Homo sapiens: one gene and its partners. The protein of the gene in region 7 purifies or fractionates together with the protein of the main gene of each other region. This does not show direct contact. Each region holds a gene or a part of one and is shown on either strand. Other genes may lie near its edges.

Region 1 (3,500 bases), on a different chromosome or scaffold from region 7:
TTTGGAGGAGGAGTAAGTCATGAACATGCAAGATTAGGCTACGAGGCAGACCATGAGGTGTTACAGGAAAGAAGCAGTAACCCAAGGGAAGGGAGAGGCCCAAGCCCCTGGGAAACTGGGGGAGGCTGTGCCTACGCCTTCCCTTGATGTGGGCCTCAATGGGCCAGTGGGAGGAGGGCAACAAAAGGAGTAAGGTGGAGAGGGAGAAGCTACGAGCAAACACACCAGAGGGAAATCTGCGGTGCCTGCAGCACCACACTGTCGCAGCAGCCGAGTGCAGAGGAATGGGAAGCAAGACCGAAAAGGCAAGATTTCACCATCCCTTGATGGCAGGAAAAGGTGGTAATTAATTTGGTAAGTCCGGGAAGCAGCCACTGAAGGTGGCAAGTCTGCTTCCTTCTAAGAGCCAGGCAGAGGGCAAGGCGAAGGGGAAGGGGTAGGAATAGATCTAACATAAAAAAGGAGGGGTGAGGAGATGAGAAGGGAAAAGGGAGGCCTAGAGGCAGGTTCCATTGCCTCTGGAGAGCAAGACAACCCCCCGCCCTGCCTTGATATACACACACTGGCAGGGGCTCCGAGTCTGGCAGGGCCCAGCAGCTCAGACACCCTGATTCTTGCCATTCAGTCTTAAGCCATGGTTTACTGTACAGGATTGAAATTATGTTAATAGTGTCATTCATGCTAGTAGTGTCACTTTATTAATACATTTAATCACAGAAATAAAGGTTTTATTCATGACACTATCACTACTGATAGCACTACTACAAGAAGCTTATTCTTCAGTTCTTTTTCCCAAGTCAATGGGCAGCTTATAAAGAAATACAAAGACCCTAGACCCTAAAGACTGCATTAGGCGAGAGCCATTCCACGGTTTACTTCTCCTTCCCATCATCACCATTTTTAGAGAGGTGCAATGGGGTGAAATGAACACTAAGGGCTAGTTAAGAAAATAGATCAGGCCAGGAACAGTGGCTCATGCCTACAATCCCAGCACGTTGTGAGGCCGAGGCGGGCAGATCACCTGAGGTCAGGAGTTCGAGACCAGCCTGACCAACATGGTGAAACCCCGTCCCTACTAAAAATACAAATAAAATTAGCTGGGCGTGGTGGCGCACACCTGTAATCCCAGTTACGGGGGAGGCTGAGGCAGGAGAATCGGCTGAACCCAGGAGGCAGAGGTTGCGGTGAGCCAAGATTGCACCATTGCATTTCAGCCTGGGCAACGGAACAAGACTTGGTCTCAAAACAAAAACAAACCAAGAAAATGGATCACAAAAGGACAGCCCATGAGATGCCTGTGGAAGGAAGGGCAATTATACCATGTTTCTACTTAACACATAATCCTTCCTACGTGCCAGACACTGGTCTAAGCACTTTACAAATAAGAACTCATTGCAACTTCCTAACCCCATAAGGTAGGTACTATCATTCCTCCCAATTTACAGATGAGGAAATGAAAACATAGAGGCCAAGTTTCTTGCCCAAAGTCACAGGGCTAGTGAGCAGAGCCAGAACAAGAACACAGGCACTCTGGCTCCAGGCTAAGTGGCCTGACCTTATACTCAGCTGCCCCTCACTATGCCTTTTAGGACAGGGTGCAGGTTATAAACACATGAGCCTCCTTCTCTCCAAGGGACTGCCAGATGCAGAAAGGCACACAGGAGATAGTGTGGGCCTCAGGGATGCTGCTCTGGTTATGTATCAGAAATGGAGCCCCCAAAGCATCAGAAATGGGGAAGAGCAGAGTGGAACGAAATATACAGACCCTGAGTTCACTGCCCATCATTCTCAGAGTCCAGAGCTACCACCCTTCAGGATCATAAAAACTAGAGCAGGCAGAAGCTCTCCTCAGCAGAAAGTCAAGAGGCATTCAAATCCTCCACTCTCTAAGACAAACTCTACTCGCCAAAAAACTTTCCAGAGGAAATCAGCTTCACTGATTACTACTCTCATCAGTTGGTACTTAATGCTCACTGGCTGTTAGACCGTATCTACACTGGGCACCTTTCTGGTTTGTGGATTACAGATAAGCCATATATCGCTGCCCCTAACGAGTCAGTGCACTACAGCCACGTTAGATTATGTTTCACTTTCAGGCCTCAGGGCTTGAAGCAATTCTATTTTTAAGCTTTCTCAGTTCCAAAAAGGAAAAGAAGGCATTTTAAGGAAATTAGCGTTGGCTAAAGGAATGACAATTTCCTCTTAAAGAGTTAACTGATTAGCCACTTTGCTAAACCAGAAATCTTGGAGCTAACCACAGAGGAAGAACACCTTGTTCAATGTTACTGGGCAAGGGCTGGGGACCTCTGAAAGCATGACAGTCACTCAGGATGTTGGTGGCCCAGGACAAAACTCCGTTACTACCAGAGGGGCACTGTGTGTCCTTCTCCCCAAGAAAGTCTCAAAAATCCTTTTAGATTCTATTCTCTATGAAGCATGTGTCACTTTTTGAGCAACAGAATTGATATAACCACAGAAGACAAATTTGCGAATATCAAATAAATCTTTAAAAATATTACTATCACGTTTTGAAGAGTCATTCTTTCCTTTTTTAAATAATTCCCTTTCATTTAACATCCAAAGTAGCCTTGCTTATTTTGTATCTTTGGGAATAAGTCATTACCCCCACAGCCAACTGTTTAAAGGACACTTCTTTATGTGCGCATTTTTAAAAAAGGTAACCACTCCTGAAGGAAATCTAAAATGTGTCCTACACACCCCAATTTTCCCATATAGGGTTCATGAGACACAGTTAACCTTCTCTTGGTGAATGAGGCTTCTAAGAATTCAAGAGTCTCCCGTTTCGGTTTTGGCTTTGCCACTAGCAAAGACCTGTGACCTTGGGCAAGTAATTTAACAGCACTGGGCCTGAATTTCCTCACCTGCAACATGAAGGGGATTGGGCAGATGAGGACTCTTGTGCCTTACACTTCTCAAATGTTATGATTCCAAGACCAGTGTAAATGCCAACTATTGCCCATGCCAACCTAGAATATCGTTCTCAGGGACTGTCAAGTTCTAAGAATGTTGTCTAGACCACACAAATGGCCCCAGAGAGTTGGGCTACGGTAATGGAAAGCAGACTAAAGTCAATTATTTTTTATTCTTTTTGTCCCCTTTCTATTCCATCAGCTGCCAATTCTCACTGCTTTCTACCTCGAGCTGACATAAACCCCTGCCTTAGTTTACAAAGCTAAGTGGGGGCCTGCATCACTTAGATTCTTCATCAAAGCAAAGTGCATCTGGCTGTGTGATACAATCTGGCAACCAGTGGCCTTCATCACTTCTCCTTCAAAGTTACATTGCATTGGATAGGAGAGTATTTGAGGGCAAAAATTATATTTTTTAAAAGTTATATTGTAGACAAATATGGTGGCCATAAGACTGACCCCCAGTTAAGGTTGGGGAAAGAACGTACATTCCTTGAATTCCAAAAACACATTGCTTTTAGAGGAGAGGGTTTGAAACAAGTGTGAACAGAATATAAACCAATTTCCCTC
Region 2 (3,384 bases), on a different chromosome or scaffold from region 7:
CATCTAGTGGCAGGGCCCGCCGGCTCGGCCTCCAGGGACCATTTACACCGGAAGACAACCCCATCCCCACCCAGTAAGGCCAGCCCCAGGGGCAGAGTGGGGAGGCCCAGGAGGCGGCCGGGGCAGGCTGTGGACATCTTGGCCCAGAGAGAAAGTGCCTCTGGGTTTGCCTGGGACTCAAAATGAAGAGCCCAAAGAAAGGCTTTGAAACTGTGGGTCTCACTCCTGACAAGTCTGGGTTTCAGAAACTGAAGGCCCAGGCAACGTGGGGTGAGGGTTCTTCCTCCCCAGAGCCCCCCAGGATACGTAAGAAAGCACCTGCTCAGAAGCAGCCTGCTGAGCCCTAACAAGTACGTGGGACCTGCTACCCTGCAATGCAGGACATGGGCCTCAGCCAACAGCCCGGCCAGCCAGACCTGCCTTGGCACCAAAGACCTTTGCCCTCAGGGGCCTCACACTCTGCCTCCGAGGCTGAAACCCAGCCAAGGACAGGCTCTCCAGAGGCCGGGGCCTCCCATGCTCTGACACCCTGGTGTGCGTTGGAGTTGAAACCCACTAGGCCTGTGATGGCTGCCTTTGCCCACAGAGAATTCAAACTTCAAAATCACAAAACGGCCGGACGCTGAGACGTGCCCCATGTGCCCCAGTGCTCACGTGCTCCCAGCGCCACCACTAACACCCCCAAGGCCGTGACGGAGCATGACCTTATGTGGAGCCTGCCTCTGCGCTGAGGCCCTGAGATCCGGCCTCACGGGGGCTCCCTGGGCCCCAGCGCAGCGTCTCCGGCACAAACATCCCCAAGGACACAGTTGCGAGGAGCCCCTCGGAGGCCCCGCTGGGGCTGGCCAGCTCACACGCACCAGCTGCACGTAGGCGACCTTGTAGTCCGGCTTCTTGATCCTCACGTTTCTGTGATCTCTTCTCTTGTTAGAGCCTGCCGGAAGGGAGTGAAAAAAAAATCAGAACTTTAAAAAAATCAGAACTTTAAAAAATTACATCCTCAGAGGTCAATGCCACTAAAACGAACCTCTGCTCTCTTAAAAATGTAAATATGTTTTTAAAAACTCAAAAAGGCGATTTCTCAGGGAAATGGGCACTGTAATCAAACGAGCCAGCACAGCAGGCTCCCAGGCTCCTCCCTTCTCCCAACAGAGGCCAGCAGGTTCTCAACAAAGGAGCGGACGTGGCACCAGCCAGGGCACACGACAGGGGCTTATGGAACAGACAGCGCTTTGCTCCCCAGCCTCAGCCACTGCAGTCCCACCTCGGGGGCTGACGGCAGGAGTCAGGGCTCAGAATGGACCCCGGGCCAGCCCAGTTGAATTCCAATCCCTGCTCTGGCACGTAAGCACCGTGTGACCCTGACAAGTCACCCTGTGCCTCAGTTTCCCATGAGCCACGTCAGACCAAGACCCCCATGCAGTAGCTGAGGCTGTGGCTCGGCGAGGTGGGCATGTGGCACAGATGGGCACGACACCAACAGGAGAACCTCCCATGGGCACTCACCATGCTGCACCCGTGTCCGCACAGCAGCCACGGGCACGTTATAGATGCCCTCGAGGTAATTCCTGAGGTCCACCCTTGTCATTCTGGAGGCGAAGGAGAAAGAAAACGGCATCTTAACCAGGCTAAAAGCCAAAAATACTGTCCCAGATGCACAAGCACCCGAGGCTGAGAGGCCGACAGACCAAGACCCACAGGGGGCAGGGAGGAGGGCTGGGTACATCAGCGGCACTAGTGAGGCCAGGCAGCCCCAGCAACACCAGTGCTGCTGGCTGCAAGACTCCCTACTCTGGGCACACCAGCATGGGGTGGCAGTGGCACAGACCCCACAGAGTGGGAGCACTGCCCAACCAACCCCTGGCCTGCTCCACAGCCCCACATGGCTCCCTGCTCCGGGCAAGTGCCTGTGAGAGGAGGTGACAGTCTCTGCACGCTCCTGGCTGGCAGGTGCCCCACCTCGTCTGCCCCGGGGCCCAGTGGCCGCATCAGGGTTAGGCCTGCTCTGCGGCTGATGGGACTGATGCGGTTCTAGGAAGTACCTTCTGGAAAGGCCTGCCTGGCATTCGGTGCGTTAACTGCAAGTTCCCTCTACTGCAGAACCTCACGGTCACTGTCAACTCAGCTTCTGGGCCCCTGCAGGCTGCACAGGCCTGACCTTCGCCCCCAGGGGAGCTCACGCTGCTGCCCCGCCTGGCTCGCATCAACCCTGAGCTGGGGACCTGTGAACTTAAACACTGCAGAGCAGCACCCCAGTTTTGCTCGTAGGGACTGTGCATTTCTCTGAAGGTCAAGCAGGCTCTTCTGAGCGGTTCTGTACATCACGGCCTGCTCCCAACCCAGCCTCTCAGGGCGCCTCTCCTAAAAAGAAGCTGCAAGAACTCAACAGAAGACGCGAGCACAGAGGTCCAAATTTTAAGGCTTCCAGTGAAGCCGTCCCCGGGTGGAGGGCGGCGTGCAGCCTGCCTGCCGGGCTCCACACCTACAGGCACTCCATCAATACTTGCCGGGCAGGGCCGCCTGAGGTGCCTTCCCAGCAGGAAGAGGCTAGCACGTGAGCAGAGTTGTTTTAACTCAGGACCCAGGCCCCCCTGAGGGCACTCTCCCAACCCAGCGGGAAAACTTCCGGGCTCACTCCACGGGGATCCCCCCGAGGGTGCTCCCCAACCCCAGCCGGAATCCTCCCGGACTCACTCCATGGGGATCCGGAACTGCACGGTGTCCTCGGGCTGGGCCACACCGGGCCGCACCAGCTGAATGAAGAAGTTGGTTCGGAACACCCGAAGTTGTGGGCCACCCAGCCGGTACAGGGGGTACCTGTACAGAAGAGATTGGGTCCATGTCACACACTTAGGCCAAGGCAGCCCGACACACCAACCCTGCAGACCTCCGAGTGTCCACTCACAACAGGGTGGGCAGAAAAGGGGGTAGCTAACACTGCGGATCCCTGAGTGTCCACTCCCAACAGTGGTGGGCGGGAAACGGGGTAGCTAACCCTGCAGACCCCCGCGTGTCCACTCCCAACAGTGGTGGGCGGGAAACAGGGTAGCTAACCCTGCAGACCCCCGCGTGTCCACTCACAACAGGGGTGGGCGGGAAACAGGGTAGCTAACCCTGCAGACCCCCGCGTGTCCACTCACAACAGGGGTGGGCGGGAAACGGGGTAGCTATCAGCAGGTCACCACCCAAGGACACAGAGGTCCCCACAGCCCCTTTCTCACATGGGCCTGCCAAGGTGGACGGCCAGTCCCTAGCATCGACTTAAGGAGCATGCGCTGTTGACCCCCAAGGTCAGACTTTAGAAAAGGCCAATGGACAAAAATCAGAACCCCGCAGACAGCATTCCCCCAATAAGCTGATGGCAAGGCTCAAAGACGTGTGTTG
Region 3 (3,500 bases), about 61 Mb from region 7:
CAAGTCAAGTAGAAGTCTATTTCACCAGGGAGAGCTCAGTGGTTTTCCTTAAGGATTTTCAGTTTAAAAAAAAATATTAGAAGCATTATCAGGCTAGACCCGGTGCCACTGCACTCCAACCTCGGCGAGTGAGACCCTGCTTAAAAAAAAAAAAAAAAAAAAATTAGCATATTCAAACATCAATAAAAGTAAGAACTCATCACCTAGATTCAAAAACAAATATTTTCCCCCATTTGTTTAATCTCTCTTTTTTCTTTCTTAGTTGTTTGCTGTGTTTTAAAGTAAATCCCAGACATCATGCCATTTCACCTGTAAAAACTTCAGTATGTAGCTCTTATAAAATAAGGAGACTTTCTTAACTAAATACAGTATTGTTACAGTTAATAAAATATATATTCCTCAATATTTAATAATCAGTCCATATTCAGTACTCCCTGCATTTTACAGTTGATTCATTCAAATAGAGATCCAAAATAGGGGGAGCGTACATTGCATCTAGTGAATTCCCTTAGTCTCCTGAATGAGAGTGGGCCCCTTTATTCCTGTTGAAGTCCTGTATAGGGTCCTATGGACCTGTCCGGTGGACTATTTGGTTGCTTTCTCAGTCCTTGATTAGATTCAGACACTACTGGTGCTGGGTTTTTAAAATTTACTTAATTAAGAGGGATGAGGCTGGGTGAGGTGGCTCACGCCTGTAATCCCAGCACTTTGGGAGGCCGAGGTGGGTGGATCACCTGAGGTTGGGAGTTCGAGACCAGCCTGACCAACACGGAGAAACCTTGTCTCTACTAAAAGTACAAAATTAGCCAGGCGTGGTGGCACATGCCTGTAATCCCAGCTACTTGGGAGGCTTAGGCAGGAGAATCGCTTGAACCTGGGAGGTGGAGGTTGCGGTGAGCCGAGATCATGCCATTGCATTCCAGCCTGGACAACAAGAGTGAAACTTCATCTCAAAAAAAAAAAAAGGCTGAGGGTGAAATGTGTAATTAATATTGATTCCTTCTCTTTTTTAGTAATCATTTACATGTTTTACATGTTTCCTCTTTTGACCTTTACTCTGGTGTAATCAAGATTTTCTGTATACATTTGTCCCCCTTACCTCCTGTTGCTCATATTTTGGAAGTTACTTTGTGATAAATGAGTGCCGTGTTTTTTAAACAATTTTTTGTAACTATCATGCTTTTTTCTTTTTCTTTTCTTTTTTTTTTTTTTTAGCTGTTCATTTAAAATTTTTTATTTTTTATTTTTTTGAGACAGAGGCTTACTCTGTAGCCCAGAGGCGTGATCTGGGCTCATTGCAACTTCCACATCCAGGGTTTAATTTTTTTTTTTTTTTTTTTTTTTTGAGACAGAGTCTTGCTCTTTTGCTCTTGTCGCCCAGGCTGGAGGCAATGGCACGATCCCAGCTCACTGCAACCTCCGCCTCCTGGCTTCAACTGATTCTCCTGCCTCAGCCTCCTGAGCAGCTGGGATTACAGGAACCCACCACCACGCCCAGCTAAATCTGTATTTGTAGTAGAGACAGGGTTTCACCATGTTGGCCAGGGTAGTCACGAACTCCTGACCTCAGGTGATCTGCCCACCTCGGCCTCCCAAAGTGCTGGGATTACAGGCATGAGCCACCTCACCCAGCCTAATTTGTTTTTTAAAAAAACTGGAGATGAGGTCTCACTGCATTGCTGAGGCTGGTCTCAAACTCCTGGGCTCAAGCAATCCGCTCACTCACCTCGGCCACCGAAAGTGCTGGGATTACAGGTGTGAGCCACTGCGCTTGGCCTGTTTTAAATTTTTATGGTTACATAGTAGATGTATATATTTATTTCCATACAGGCATGCAATGTGTAATAATCACATCAGGGTAAATGGGGGTATCCTATGCACTACCTCAAACATTTATCATTTCTTCTTGTTACAAACATTCCAATTATACTGTTTAAGTATACAATAAGCTATTGTTGAGTGTAGTTACCCTGCTGTGCTATCAAATACTAGATTATTTTTGTACCCATTAACCATCCCTATTCCCTACATCCACCCACCTACTACCCTTCCCAGGCTCTGGTAACTATCATTCTACTCTCTTTTTTTTTTGAGACAGGGTCTCACTCTGTCGCCCGGTACAGTGGCGTGATCTTGGCTCACTGCAACCTCCACCTCCCAGGTTCAAGTGATTCTTATACCTCAGCCTCCTGAGTAGCTGGGACTACAGGTGCGTGCCACCACGTCTGGCTAATGTTTTTTTTCTTTTGAGACGGAGTCTCGCTCTGACGCTCAGGCTGGAGTGCAGTGGCACGATCTAGGCTCACTGCAAGCTCTGCCTCCCAGGTTCATGCCATTCTCCTGCCTCAGCCTCCCAAGTAGCTGGGACTGCAGGTGCCTGCCACCACACCCAGCTAATTTTTTGTTTTTATATTTTTAGTAGAGAAAGGGTTTCACCGTATTAGCCAGGATGGTGTCTTATCTCCTGACCTTGTGATCCACCTGCCTCGGCCTCCCAGAGTGTTGGGATTACAGGTGTAAGCCACCACGCCTGGCCTCTGCTAATTTTTGTATTTTTAGTAGAGATGGGGTTTCGCCATCTCGGCCAGGCCGGTCTCAAAGTCCTGACCTCAGGGGATCCACCTGCCTTGGCCTCCCAAGGTGCTGGGATTCTAGATGTGAGTCGCCGTGCCTGGCCTTTTTTCGCTATTCTCTAGAAGAGTTTGGGCACAGCTAAGATAATAGTTGCTTCTAAATTTTCTGATTTAATTATGAAAGTTGAATGGTGCTCCCATTTTTGAACCATGCTTTATCTGTAGTTGTGTCCCCTTGTTATTCATAGTATTCCTTATTTGTATTTTGGTTTTGTTAATTCTCTATAAGTTTCTGTTTTTCATTTCTTTGATTTGCGCGCATCTCTTTTGGTTTCTTGGGTAGATTTTGCCCTTGATCTGGTAATTTAACTTTAATTTTTATTCTTTCTAGAAAATTCTAAAATTTTAAGTCTATACATTTTCCTCAAAGCACCACTTTAGCTACATTCCCCAAGTTTTGATAGGTAGTTATCATTTTGATTTAGTATTTTAAGTTTCTCCATTAGTTTGACTGAATAGTCATTTTAAAATTTAAATAACTTTAACCTTTAGTATTTAAACATTAAACATAGAAGTTTTTAAGTTTAATTTATCTTTTACTTTTATGCTATCCTTTTTCCTGATTCAATTTTTATTGCAATGAAAAATTTCTGAAATTATTTTTTAGAAACAGCGTCTCACTATGTTGCCCAGGCTGATGTTGAACTTCTGGGCTCAAGTAATCATTCCACCTTAACCTCCCAGAGTGCTAGGATTACAGGTGTGGCACCGTGCCCTGCTTGAAATTCTTGGTTGGGTGCTGAGCATATATCTTTTGCCCTGACAAGAATGACATTTTAGCTGCTTATGTGATTCTTATTTTGCAGGGGAGGGGACAGGGTCTCACACTGTCACCCAGGCTGGAGTGCAATGGTGCGATGTCAGCTC
Region 4 (3,500 bases), on a different chromosome or scaffold from region 7:
AATGGGGATAAAGTAACTGACTGGAAAGTAGGCTACAGGGTAGAAATCGACAGATCTTTAGTAGAAAAGGGGATTTCAATGAAAGGAGGCAGTATTAGCAATAAAGTCATAACATAGAAAAGTCACTGTCTAGTCTAATCATTTACAAACTTAAAAAGAAGTAGAAGCTTTTATTCAAATCAAAACTTATGTAGAATACCAATATGATAAATATATAAAGGTTGAGCCGTTTGGGTCGAAACAAGGTTTGACATGTATAGGAAACAAAATCCCATCCCTCTTGAGCCTCTCTATCTCTATCCTAGTGGGCCCTAGAGAGCACAGTTTAAAACAGCTGAACTAGGCTGGGTGCAGTGGCTCACACCTGTAATCCAGGTGCTTTGGGACGCCAAGGCAGGAGAATTTCTTGAGGCCAGAAGTTCAAGACCAGCCTGGGCAGGATCGTGAGATCCCATCTCTACCAAAAAAAAAAAAAAAAAAATTAGGCCAGGCATGGTGGCTCATGCCTGTAATCCCAGCACTTTGGGAGGCTGAAGCGGGTGGGTCACCTGAGGTCAGGAGTTCGAGACCAGCCTGACCAACATGGTGAAACCCCGTCTCTACTAAAAATACAAAATTAGTTGGCTGTGGTGGCGCATGCCTGTAATCCCAGCTACTTGGGAGGCTGAGGCAGGAGAATCACTTGAACCCAGGAGGGAGAGGTTGCAGTGAGCTGAGATCTCGCCATTGTACTCCAGCCTGGGCAACAAGAGTGAAACTCTGTCTCAAAAAAAAAAAAAAAAAATTAGCCAGACGTGGTGCACGTCTGTGGTCCCAACTACTCAGGAGGCTGAAGTGGGAGGATTGCTTGAGCCCAGGAATTCAAGGCTGCAGTGAGCTATGATTGCACCTGTGCACTCCAGTCTGGACAGCAGAATGAGATCCTGTCCCACACACAAAAATAAAGAAACCCCCCCCTGCAATGTAGCCTGACCAGCAGGCAGATGTTAGACATTAATGTGTAATAGGGAAGCATTTTCCTCAGGCTTTCAAAGATGGGAAATTATTGTGGATTGTTTTCTTACCCCCTACCAGAAAAGAGTGCTTCACCATTGAGGTGGCCTGCTGGAAAAATCACTCCACTAATTTGAGAGTCTTCCCTTGAACTTTTGTGGTTCTGGCTTTGTGTTTTTTAGCTCTTGAATGTCGTCTCTCAACTAGCCAAACGGAATCTGCGACTGCTGGTCCTAGGCCGGAAGCACATGCTAAGACGGAGTTCCCAGTGGAGTCGGGATGAGATGGAAGAGGTGCAAAAGCAAGCCAGCTGTTTTTTTGCTGATGACATGTAAGTGTTGGAGGTAATAGGTGAATTATACTGTGCTGCAGACATCTATCTGCTTGTTAGTTACCTACTTTAAACCTATCTTTTAAATGCATGTGTATGTGTATACTCACCCTCATTAAAAAAAAAAAAAGATTTGAGACAACTTACAAAACTACGGTTTCTTCTAAAAAAGAAAAACACTACAGTTTCTACGGCAGGATAAACTTAAACAGATGAGGAAATCAGGATAAAGGAGAAGTGGAGGGAAGTTAAGTCAGGAGTGAGATTAGTACACCGAATACATGCCATAAGATCCTAAGTAGATCATTTAGCAAATACTTGACAAACAGGAGCACCTTCTATGTTCTTGGAGAAAGAGCAGTGAAAAAGACAAAGTCCCTGCCCTCTTAGAATTTACAATAAACAGATAAACAAACAGGTAATGTCATTCCAGGCAGTGATTAGTACTATGGGGACAATAAAGCAAGGTAGATAGAATTTAGGTAAGGGATAGGTCAGAGGGTTGTGAATGGGGTGGTCAGGAACAGCCTTTCTGAGGGGGCAGATTCGATGAGGAGTGAGTTATTTGAGAAATGGGGAGAGGTGGTGGGAAGACCATCCCAAATAATACGAAATATTTAAAAAGCCCCGATGCAGGCCGGGCTCAGCCTGTAATCCCAACACTTTGGGAGGCCGAGGCGGGCAGATCACGAGGTCAGGAGATCAAGACCATCCTGGCTAACGGTGAAACCTCATCTCTACTAAAAATACAAAAAATTAACCGGGCATGGTGGCGGGCGCCTGTAGTCCCAGATACTGAGGAGGCTGAGGCAGGAGAATGGCGTGAACCCGGGAGGCGGAGCTTGCAGTGAGCCGAGATCGCGCCACTGCACTCCAGCCTGGGCAACAGTGCGAGGCTCCATCTCAAAAAAAAAAGGAGCCCAAAGGAGCCCTGAGGCAGGCATAAGCTTGGCATGTGTTTGAGGAAAGCAACACGGCCAGTTGGGCTATAATAGCAAGAGGGAAAGTAATAAGCTCTGAGATTAGAGAGAAGGCAGAAACCGCAATGCAGAGGACCTTGCAGATCCTGGTAGACAAGCAAGAGGCCTAGATTTTATTCTAAGTGTAGGGAGAAAATTGCTGTTGAGCTGCAGCTTCCCAGGAAGCCAAAGGAACCATGGTAAACATGGTCAGTAACAAAACCTACAGTAAGCCAGCCACAGTGGCTCATGTCTATAATCCCAGCACTTTGGGAAGCCAAGGCAGGCAGATCACTCAAGATCAGGAGTTTGAGACCAGCCTGGCCAACATAGTGAACCCCATCTCTACTAAAAATACGATTAGCCAGATGTGGTGGCACACGCCTTGTAGTCCCAGGTACTCGGGAGGCTGAGGCAGCAGAATCACTTGAACCTGGAAAGCCGAGGTTGCAGTGAGCCAAGATCGTGCCACTGCACTCCAGCCTGGGTTACGGAGTGAGACTGTCTCAAAAAAAAAAAAAAAAAAAAACAACCCACAAACCTACAGTAGCCATAAAGTAAGAAGAAAATAGCTAATTAGGAGGAGTACAGATCCGCAACAGCACATATGAACTCAATGCACTGTTGTGCATTGAGGTTTTCATATTGTTTGTGCTAACAAAAGTTTATTTCCAACTTTGCTTAATGAGTGTATATGCCTCAGCCCCAAATCTAGGTTTCATAGTCTGAATGTGATAACTTCAAGATTTGTCAGTATTCTCCAAATCATTTATTTTATTGAGACGGAGTCTCACTGGGTCACCCAGGCTGGAGTACAGTGGCACAATCTTTGCTCATGGCAACCTCCACCTCCCGGGTTCAAGCGATTCTCCTGCCTCAGCCTCCCAAGTAGTTGGGATTACAGGCACCCGCCACCATGCCCAACTAATTTTTGTATTTTTAGTGGAGATGGGGTTTCACCATGTTGGCCAGGCTGGTCTCGAACTCCTGACCTCATGATCCACCCACCTCAGCCTCCCAAAGTGCTAGGATTACAGGCATGAGCCACCTCGCCTGGCCCCCAAATCATTTATTATTTAAAAAGTACAGTAGCTCTCAATCATAAAGCAAGGGAGAAGCAAACCTCTCATCCAGTTCCCAAACCACATCCCTTCTTTTTTTAGCTGGAAGATGGTGCTTCCATTTCTCCAAGAGCAGAAGACCTAATGGCAACATTG
Region 5 (3,500 bases), on a different chromosome or scaffold from region 7:
TCAGACAAAGACACATCAAAAAAAACAAAAAACAAACAAAAAAACTACAGCACAGTATCTCTGATGAAGATTGATGCAAAAATCCTCAAAAAAAATACTAGCAAACCAAATTCAACAATACATTAGAAAGATTATTCATTATGACCAAGCAGGATTTATCCCTGGGATGCCAGGATGGTTCAACATATGCAAATCAATCAATATGATACATCATATCAACAGAATAAAGGATAAAAACCATATGATCATTTCAACTGATGCTAAAAAAAAAAAAGGCATTTGGTAAAAGTAGAACCCTTAGTAAAAGCAGAATCCCTGTATGATCCAGGGATCTCACTTGTGGATATATTTCAATTCATAAGAATTGAAATGAGAATCTCAAAGAGACATCTGCACTCCCATGTTAAGTGCAGCATTGTTTGCAATAGCCAAGATAGGGAAACAACCTAAACATCCATCAGCAGATGAATGGATAAAGAAAATGTGATATATACATATAATGGAATATTATTCAGCCTTAGAAGGAAATCTCATCACATGCTACAATGTGGATCAACTTGAAGGGCATTATGCTAACTGAAATAAGCTAGTCATAGAAGGACAAATACCGCATGACTCCACTTATATAAAGTATCTAAAAAGGTCAGTCATAGAAACAGAGATTACAATGTTGATTGTCAGGGGTGAGGAAAGGGGGAAATAGGGGAGTTGCTATTCAACAGGTATAAAGTTTCAGTTATGCAAGATGATTAAGTCCTAGAGATCCACTGTACAATATTGTTAACTATATCATTAATAATAAAGTCAGCAATATTGTACTGCACACTTTAAAATTTACTAAATGTTCTTACCATAATAAAAAAAGTCAAATTTTTTAAAAGACAGATTTCTCCATTTTTTAATACAGTTAAAATAAACTATGAACTTAGGAGCTACGAGGATAAGCTGGGAGGGTTTGAAATCAAACTCCTATAATGAATTAACTAATACATTATAAAGAACAAAGAAACAAACAAGACAAAGGGCAGCAAATATAAAACAAAATTTTGTTTAACCTTATAAATGAGTAAGGAACACTATGTTTTATTTATTGGCATGGATGATGACTATGGGTGTGTTCACTTGTAATAATTCATTAAGCTTATGATTTATAACCTTTTTTGTAAGTTATATGGCAATAAAAAAGGTAAAAAAAAACAAGTACATACTCTTTGTTCTGGCATTTGTAGACATGATTGAGAGAAGAGTAAGTATGAAGAATAGATAGAATGTTTTTCATGTTTAGGGATTCAGGATCCTCTACTATTCTCTTCATAAACAGGTCCATTAAACCAACAGGTCGAAAGCCAAGGTTTTCAAATAAAATGAGGATAAAAAGAACCTTAAAAAGAGAAAATTGAGGGAAAACTCTATAATAATTACAGTATGCTAATAGTAATTTTTTAGATCTCAAAAAATCTAAGCAGCAATTCAACTGTCCTGATCAACAGAATATATCCTGAAACAGAATATTTCCATGAAAAGGAACAATCATCTTTCTCTCACAAAATCTGTTCTATTAATTCTTGAATTGGGTATCAAGTTAATAAGCAATCTTTTTTAAGCTGAGAACCAGGGCATACAATGATTTCTACGTTTCCATCTGATTTAAAAATAAATCTCTTCCTACATGCTTTTCATACAACATATCTGAAAATTACTTTTAAATATGCCTTTTCTGAAGGTTTTCAAAATGACCAACTCAATCTTGAACTTCTCGCATTCCCAAACTTAAATACTTCCTAGATTCTAACATGTAAGACATAACCCCAAAATTTCTATATTTAATATTCATACCTATAAGTGAAAATGGAACTGAAACATTATGATTAAAATAAACTTTCAAGTTCACCTCCAATTTCCTTCTCAATCTTTCTTACTTAGGATTATTACTTCTCTTTCTATAACCAATTTCCACAGTAAACTCAATATTTACCTTACTCTCCAAAATAAACTGAACCTAGAGATCTAACAGTTATCACCTATTTCATTGCAAAAAGAAGTTTTTACCAGGTGCTTCATTAAATGTTTATATTCTTAACACAGCTCCTGATTTTAAAGGCTTTTACTCTGGATAAAACAATGGACATGACCATTAAGTAGTGACATTTTATTCTTCAAAAACCCCAAGCCTGTCACATCACCCATCTTTATTATTTGAAATCTAACAAGAACAAAGTATAAACACGGAAATCATGCTAAATATCTAACAAAAGTACCATACAACCCTTTTTTTTTTTTTTTTTTTTTGAGACAGAGTTTTGATCTTTATTGCCCAGGCTGGAGTACAGTGGCACAATCTCAGCTTACTGCAACCTCCACCTCCCAGGTTCAAGTGGTCCTCCTGCCTCAGCCCCCCTAGTAGCTGGGATTACAGGGACACGTCACCATGCCCGGCTACTTTTTGTATTTTTAGTAGAGATGGGGTTTCACCATGTTGGCCAGGCTGGTCTTGAACTCCTGACCTCAGGTGATCCACCCACCTTGGCCTCCCAAAGTGCTGGGATTACAGGCGTGAGCCACCGCGCCCAGCCCATACAACCCTTTTAAAACGAAAAAGAAGAGCAAATTTTTGTTTCAAATAGAAAGATGACCAAAGGATAGAATAGTATACAGATTGTCCTTGACTTACGGTGGGGTATATCCCAACAAACTCACCATAAATTGAAAATATTTTAAGTCAAAATGCATTTAATACATCCAACTTACTGAACATCATAGCTTAGCCTAGCCTACTTTAAACACGCTTAGAACACTTACATTCACCTATAGTTGGGCAAAATGAGTTAACAAAAAGCCTATATTATAATAAAAGTGTTGAATATCTCAAGTAATTTATTGAATACAATATGCATTGTTTACCCTCATGATTGCACAGCTGATTGGGAGCTGCGACTTGCTGCCACTGCTCAGCATGAAAAGAGAGCATCATACAACATATCACTAACCCAGCAAAACAACAAAATTCAAAATTCAAAGTATGGTTTCTACTGAATGCGTATTGCTTTTGCAACATCAAACAGTCAAAAAATATTAAGTCAAGCCATCCTAAGTTGGGGACTATTCATATTAGCAAGTAGCCCCCAGACAGGAATAATAAGGAGCTAATTTTTCAAAAGTCAATTCAGCATTGGAATATTTTGGTATCTTAACTACTATAAAGGTGAAAGAGAAATACTTAAAATGCTACATGAATTAGTGTTTTAAAAGTTTGTGAGGCTTATTCTAAATTGTTAATGTACTCACTTTTCTGAACTTCCAGATGTCGAAAGTTGCAGCCACATAATCTGCAAGTCCCTTGAAGAGATCCAAATTATGGTACTGGAGGTCTTTGCAGGACTGCAATATGTTGATCATTATTCTTAAAGGACACCCATGGATATTATCTTGAAGAATGAGTTAAATAAACAAACAAAAATTACCTGATTGTTTTGAATACAACATGCTTTATTCTTTTTTCA
Region 6 (3,500 bases), on a different chromosome or scaffold from region 7:
TTAGAAATACAACATTAGACAATAGAAACTGTTCTTGATTCTCTTTCCTTACCCGCTGAAAACGGTTAAACATTTTGGAATGATTATTTTAAACAGTTATCTTTCTAATCACTTTTTTGCATTTTTTTGTATGATCAGTGTTTACGATATATTCTACCCTCTTTATATTTAACAGACATTTTTATGTCACTAAATATTACTCCACAAGTTTTAATGGCTGAAAATAACAATATGGGTGCTTTGTAATTCATTTTAACCAATCTGCTGTTTCTTGAACACGTGGGGGTTTTCCTTTTTATAATTTTTTTACAAATATAAAAGGGCGCGGTGGCTTACGCCTGTAAATCCAGCACTTTGGGAGGCCGAGGCGGGCAGATCAGAGGTCAAGAGATCGAGACCATCCTGGCCAATATGGTGAAACCCCATCTCTACTAAAAATACAAAAATTAGCCGGGCATGGTAGCATGCGCTTGTAGTCCCAGCTACTCAGGAGGCTGAGGCAGGAGAATTGCTTGAACCCGGGAGGCGGAGGTTGCAGTGAGCAGAAATTGCGCCACTGCACTCCAGCCTGGCAACAGAATGAGACTCCCATCTAAAAAAAAAACAAAACAAAACAAAAAAACTTGTTCCCAATTCTAAATCCATCATTATAAAATGTTTAAAACTTTTTTTAATATGGTGAAGGGAAACATTTCTATGACACTGTTCTTTTTGACTATTATAGCTCTGTTCTATTTTTAGCAGTCTAGAGAGAAGTGTGGAAAAAAAAGAGAAAGCAAAGTTAGTAGGGTGAACTCTATTTTAATTACCTTAGAAGTTTTTTAAATGCAGCTGCTCAAACAAAAATAAATGAAAAACATATCAAAAGTATTTTCACATTCCATGATTAGTTTCTATTGAACTTACTTGTGTACAACAGTTACTAGCTCCTCTACAGTATTTCCATTCAGTAGAATATCCATTTTTACAAGTTCTGCAGTCTGGTAGCCTGCATCTTCGTAATCAAAACTAAAAGGAAAAAAGTCCAAGTGATAAATATTACACTTCCTGAGAGATTACCTTTATTACTCTTTACTCTTTACTAAATGTCTACTTTCTACCGCATTACACTCCCCAAAGAGATATGTTTCCATCAAAATATTACATATACAGTTTCTTGTGAATGGATCTAAATGTTATCTTTTTATGTTTATTAAATCAAGGGCAAAAGCAAGGGGAATATGTTTATAGGGGAAAGGAAAATAAGCTGGTGAACCTGACAAAGAAAATGGTTTATTGAAGACAAATATCATGCCTTCCCAATGTTCCCAGCAGCTGGGAGGCTTCGGACAATACTATATATTATTAATGGATCATTTTCAGATTCATGAGTTGGGTTTCTGTTTAACTTTCTATTACCAATGACAACTCTATGTTTAAATAAATGCTATGACACTCATAAAATGCCATTAATAAATGAGACCTTTGGATTTCCTATTTGGCTCTTCAGCTTGCATCTCCCTTCACAGGGCTTTTGTGAGGATTAAATGAGTTAATACATGTAAACCAATTAGAGCAATGCCTAGTACATAATAAGTGTTTAAACAGAGCCTAGCTTAGCACACACAAGCACTTAGTTTCAGCTATTACTTTTAACAATGTGGTCAAAGCTTGTAATGTTAGTCAAAACAGACATTTAAATGTTTCACTTATAAAACTGAAGTCTAAAGAAAATTTCAATTAGGCTTACAAGTTGTCCCAATCACAGACAAGAATATGTATACTCCTATTGTCTTAATTTTAAAACAATTGGTGCCTGGACTTGCAAAATTATATTTGGTTTCTAAAGATTTTCAGCAGGAAGGTCATAAAGTGACAATAATACACTCTATTAACAGATTATTTTCAGAAGTACTGTTAAAATCCTTTCTTTCTTCAGGAAGCATCACTTATACATTTACTGTATGAAAGATACCATGTTAAGTATCATACAGAATACAAAGCAAATAGAGAATAAAACAGACATGGTCCTTAACTTTGAAGTTGTTACAGCTCCAGCTATGTTGTGGTCCAAAATATTAAAAATCTTAAAAATTTCTTAACTCATTTTTTCAAAAGAAATCATTATAAAAATTGTGTTTTTGTTTCCAAGCAGTCCAATTGATACCTAACCTCTATTGAAAACATAGGTATTCTAGTGTTTCCTTAGAATGCAGGAAACACATTTGTAATTCCAAAAAGCTACTAGTTGCTGTTGATTCTTGCCTCCTGGTATGAAATAAGTTTTTTCCTGATCTTAATTCATAGTCTATGATGACTTTCTGTTAAGTGTGGAATTGACTGCCTATGTAAAACATCCATCTTGAACATAATTACCTTAATGCTGGAAGCTGGAATATTTTATTTTTATGTAGTTCAAAAATAAATCATGTTCTCTCATTAAATTCAAAATGTATTTAAGTTTCCAAACGACAAGGCTTTTTAAGACCACTTATAATTCAGAAAGTAGTACCCAAATGCAAACTAAAATTGACAGACTTCTGTTAAAAATATTTATAAACATTAAACCTACTAATCTTCCTTTCAACTCTAGTAATTTTAATATGCCCCTCAATTCATTTTACTTTAAATTCCATTGCCACTTACTTGCTCAAGGTCTTGTCTGAAAGAAGACATAGAAGAAGAAAAAACTGGGTGACAAAGTAGAAGAAAATTCTCAATACAAAGGAACATGAAGATTCCTTGGTAAGAAGAATTATATATGCTAACTCTCTTCACTGACAAGATGATTAAATAAAGTTAAACTTCCAAGTCACTGTAGCATGTTTGTTAAACACTGGAATTTGTCTCTGCATGTTAACATTAACATTCATGCACTGTGTGGGAGTTTTATAGATGTCAATGTTCATTTTTCCCCTCCTGCTTCCCCATGTTTCACATCTGTTTTCTATATATACTATCCCGTAACATAAGATTTTAGGGCATAGTGAGGGTATCTAGAGTTATATGCCCCAACAACAACAACAACAACAAAAAACAGCCTCTCAGAATGCTATGCCCTGAGTTTCTTATTTGTTATTTAATAGTAACTCTCCTTTCACTTTTATCTGGCTTTTCTCCATGTACTCCTATGAGATACACAAAGGTTTTCGTGATGAGGACAACCTGTTCCTCAAAAGACTAAGTTATTAAAGTGTTCACTAATGGAGCGGCACATCTAACATTTTTTACAGACTGAATATGCACTTTTATTTTTCAAATGTAAATAGATGCTCTTGAGATTGCATAACATAAATATACATTTTAAAAGTGCCACTGAGGTTATGGTAAATTTTTGAAATTAGGTCTAATTCTTAACAGACAAGGAATACAGCTCTTCATGAAAAGGGGACTAACTTTTTTTGTTAAAAGAGAAATAAAAGTTAGATAATAAATCAAAGGAAACTTTTCTCCTATAAGCAAATCACAAGTAGTCTGTAACACCTATAAAGTTGTTCCAAGTCATTCTAACCTTAGAGTAT
Region 7 (3,500 bases):
AGGCTGAGGCAGGAGAATCTCTTGAACCCGGAAGGCAAAGGTTGCAATGAGCTGGACCCGCGCCACTACACTCCAGCCTATGCAACAAGAGCAAAACTCTGTCTCAAAAAACAAACAAACAAAAAATGAATTAGGCCAGGCCCGGTGGCTCACCCGTGTAATCCCAGCACTTTGGGAGGCCAAGACGGCTGGATCACTTAAGGTCAGAAGTTCGTGACCAGCCTGGCCAACATGGTGAAAACCCATCTCTACTAAAAATACAAAAATTGGCCGGGCCTGGTGGCACAGGCCTATATTAGCTGAGTGTGGTGACGTGAGCCTGTAATCCCAGTCACTTGGGAGGCTGAGGCAGGAGAACTGCTTGAACTGGGGAGGTGGAGGTTGCAGTGAGCCGAGATGGCACCATTGCACTCCAGTCTGACCACAGAGCAAGACCCTGTCTCTAAAAACAAACAAACAAAAGTCATCGGCGCATTAAGCAGCTCCGTCATGTCCTCACGTGACACGGTCTCACCAACATGGTGGCAACACCACCTGCAACATTCACCGTCACACTGACCAGGCCACCGGCAGGCGCTGCAGTCACAGCTCTGGGCGCCGGCACCACGGCAGAGCAAGTGCCCACTCAGTGCCGGGCACCTACCGTGTGCTGGGCGGGGTGGGGACGGAGGACACAGCCATGTGGGACGTGGGGCGCCACCACAGCAGGCCGGAGGCTGGGCACAAAAGAGTGAGGCTTTAAACGAGAGAAGAATCTGTGAACTTCAAACTCTCAGGGTTTTATAAGGAATAAAGAAGGTTTTTGCAAAATGGAGTCAGGGTTGCCTTCTGGTTTTTTTTTTTTTTTTTTTTTTTTTTTTTTTGAGAAGAAGCCTCACTATGTGGCCCAGGCTGGAGTGCAGTAGCGTGATCTCGACTCACTGCAAGCTCCGCCTCCCGGGTTCAGGTGATTCTCCTGCCTCAGCCTCTTGAGTAGCTGGGACTATAGGCGCCCGCCACTGCGCCCGGCTAATTTTTTGTATTTTTTTAGTAGAGACGGGGTTTCACCGTGTTAGCCAGGATGGTCTCGATCCCGATATCGTGATCCGCCCGCCTCTGCCTCTGCCTCCCAAAGTGCTGGGATTACAGGTGTGAGCCACGACTATCGACAATTTTTTTCTTGAGACAAGGACTTTGTCGCCCAGGATGGAGTGCAGTGCTGCGATCTCAGCTCAGTGCAGCTGCAACCTCCCTGGGCTTAAGTGATCCTCCTACCTCAGCCTCTTGAGTAGTGGGACCACAGGGGCTGCCACCACACCCAGCTAATATTTGATTTTTTGTAGAGATGGGGTCTCACTGTGTGGCCCAGGCTGGCAACTGCGTTTTCTTCTCCCAGCTTGAGAAGGGAGGAGAAGCCGAGGCCAGCAGGTACAACGTGGGCTTCCTCCCTGCTGGGAGAGCTACAGGGCTGTGCAGAGCCGGCAGGGACAGGACCTGGGGCTCCAGGAGGCCCCCACATGCTGCCCCTCAGCCACCTGCCAGCCCTGTTTTATGAGTATGTTTACCGTGGCTGTCACTTTGTCCCAGTCTGTCACAAAGGCACGGAATCCTTCCCCAAACAAGGTGCCAGCCGTCCTGCGGGGAAAGCAGTGGTGTGACCAGGAAGGACACGAAGATCCGTGCCACGCAGCGAGAGCAGGTTGAGGGTGAGGCCCTGACATGGCGGCACGGCCTTGCCAGGACAGAGGGGCAGTGCCCCCACCAAGGAGTCAGCCTACGGCGGCAAGGCCTGGAAGAGCTGGAGAGCGCCCTGGGACCAGCGACTCACACCTGCGGGGCTCCATCTGTGGCCGGCCCGGGCCTCGGCAGTGCTCACCTGATGGACTCCAAGACGGTCTGACGGTGCTCGGCCGCCTTCAGGCGGATCTGCTCGCGGATGATGTCTGCATTCTCCCGCTCGGCCTTGGCGCGCGCCCGGGCCTCGGCCTCCACTCGCAGCATCTCATTCTTGTGCCGCAGCTCCATCTCCCGCTCCACGGTGGCTGCCCCAGAGAGGCAGGGCAGCTCAGCACCATGCAGTGCAGCGCGTCCACCTCCACCCACACTGTGGACCGGCCCACGCCACGGACCGGCCCACGCCACGGACAGACCAACGCCACAGACAGGCCCATGCCACGGACCGGCCCACGCCATGGACAGGCCCACACTGCTGACAGGCTAAGGCCACGGACAGGCCCACGCCACAGACAGGCCCACGCCGCCAATAGGCTAAGGCCACGGACAGGTCCATGCCACAGACACACACAGACCTTGGTAGGGACAGCGCCACAGGCCGGCCCTGCCCATGGATTAGGGCAGAAATCCGACCCAGAGGCCTAGGCAACTTCTCAGGACGAGCTCTTTGAAGCAAAAAACCAGAACGCGGAGTTCTGAAGGAAGCCCCCCTCACACAGAAACACAGCTGTCAGAACTCAGACACGCGTGACGTGCCACGTGCCTGGCTACTGAACATTAAACGCACACACCTCGCCACAAGCCCACCCACGGTGAAGAGTGGTGACAGACGTTTGCCTGGAGCACTCGCCAACAAATGCCACATGGCACCAAATACCTGTGATCCCCACTGAAACCAGGACAGTAAAGACCCATGTTCTAGGCAGAACGCAGAGGCTCACGCCTGTAATCCCAGCACTGTGGAAGGCCAAGGCAGGCGGATAATGAGATCAAGAAGTTCAAGACCAGCCTGGCCAACACAGTGAAACCCTTTCTCTACTGAAGATACAAAAAAATTAGCTGGGCGTGGTGGCGGGAGCCTATAATCCCAGCTACTCGGGAGGCTGAGGCAGGAGAATTGCTTAAACCTGGGAGGCAGAGGTTGCAGTGAGCTGAGATCGTGCTATTGCACTCCTGCCTGGGTGACAGAGCGAGACTCCGTCTCAAAAAAAAAAAAAAGGCCCCTGTACTTCCCATGAAGTGAAGCAGCTCCTGCCCTCCCTGAACAGATCCTGGCGTCCACTCGCAGACAGAGGTGTCTTCCGAGAGGCAGCCCCACCCCGCGGAGCCCCAGCAGGCCTCGCCCACTGCACTGGTAGCTATGAGGGGCCGGGCGGCAGAACTCAGGCTCAGAGTGCACGCCGGGTCCACAAGCAGCCCCCGCCACCTCCGCCCCAGCCAGGAGAGCAGACAGCCTACCTCGCCGCATGGCTTCCTGCTTCTGCACGGACTCCTCCTGCTTCCGTAAATTCTCCTCATTGAGAAGTTGCTGAGAAGAAGCCGCAGAAAAAGAGAAAAGCCTTTAAAACCTGTGACTGTGCCCATGTGTGCGGGGGATGACTGTGCCCGAGTGTGCAGGGGGGTGAGTGTGCCCGTTTGCGGGGTGTGACGGTGCCCGTTTGCGGGGGGTGACGGTGCCCGAATGTGCAGGCGGGTGACTGTGCCCATGTGTGTGGGGGTGATTGTGCCCATGTGTGGGTGGGTTGTGCACCCGTTTGGGTGTGTGTGTGTGTGTGTGTGTGTACCCG

The links.
Region 1: the proteins of ATAD3A (region 7) and E2F3 purify together in Homo sapiens (pull-down; one large-scale study listed by IntAct). This does not show direct contact.
Region 2: the proteins of ATAD3A (region 7) and MRPL23 purify together in Homo sapiens (tandem affinity purification; one large-scale study listed by IntAct). This does not show direct contact.
Region 3: the proteins of ATAD3A (region 7) and L1TD1 purify together in Homo sapiens (co-immunoprecipitation; one large-scale study listed by IntAct). This does not show direct contact.
Region 4: the proteins of ATAD3A (region 7) and PRORP purify together in Homo sapiens (tandem affinity purification; one large-scale study listed by IntAct). This does not show direct contact.
Region 5: the proteins of ATAD3A (region 7) and FASTKD2 purify together in Homo sapiens (tandem affinity purification; one large-scale study listed by IntAct). This does not show direct contact.
Region 6: the proteins of ATAD3A (region 7) and GUF1 purify together in Homo sapiens (tandem affinity purification; one large-scale study listed by IntAct). This does not show direct contact.

The regions. Positions count from the first base shown.
Region 1 is NC_000006.12:20,408,379-20,411,878, reverse strand, and holds part of E2F3 (transcription factor E2F3), read right to left. Parts: intron 1-3,500.
Region 2 is NC_000011.10:1,950,332-1,953,715, reverse strand, and holds part of MRPL23 (large ribosomal subunit protein uL23m), read right to left. Parts: intron 2,818-3,384; coding exon 2,695-2,817; intron 1,590-2,694; coding exon 1,507-1,589; intron 935-1,506; coding exon 861-934; intron 1-860.
Region 3 is NC_000001.11:62,201,349-62,204,848, forward strand, and holds part of L1TD1 (LINE-1 type transposase domain-containing protein 1), read left to right. Parts: intron 1-2,098; exon of another isoform or gene 2,099-2,209; intron 2,210-3,500.
Region 4 is NC_000014.9:35,265,552-35,269,051, forward strand, and holds part of PRORP (mitochondrial ribonuclease P catalytic subunit isoform 1 precursor), read left to right. Parts: intron 1-1,175; coding exon 1,176-1,324; intron 1,325-3,500.
Region 5 is NC_000002.12:206,772,106-206,775,605, reverse strand, and holds part of FASTKD2 (FAST kinase domain-containing protein 2, mitochondrial), read right to left. Parts: intron 3,426-3,500; coding exon 3,286-3,425; intron 1,382-3,285; coding exon 1,209-1,381; intron 1-1,208. UniProt on the Homo sapiens protein: Plays an important role in assembly of the mitochondrial large ribosomal subunit.
Region 6 is NC_000004.12:44,691,920-44,695,419, reverse strand, and holds part of GUF1 (translation factor GUF1, mitochondrial), read right to left. Parts: intron 1,009-3,500; coding exon 907-1,008; intron 1-906. UniProt on the Homo sapiens protein: Promotes mitochondrial protein synthesis. May act as a fidelity factor of the translation reaction, by catalyzing a one-codon backward translocation of tRNAs on improperly translocated ribosomes. Binds to mitochondrial ribosomes in a GTP-dependent manner.
Region 7 is NC_000001.11:1,518,662-1,522,161, reverse strand, and holds part of ATAD3A (ATPase family AAA domain-containing protein 3A), read right to left. Parts: intron 3,242-3,500; coding exon 3,172-3,241; intron 2,022-3,171; coding exon 1,856-2,021; intron 1,615-1,855; coding exon 1,545-1,614; intron 1-1,544. UniProt on the Homo sapiens protein: Essential for mitochondrial network organization, mitochondrial metabolism and cell growth at organism and cellular level. May play an important role in mitochondrial protein synthesis. May also participate in mitochondrial DNA replication.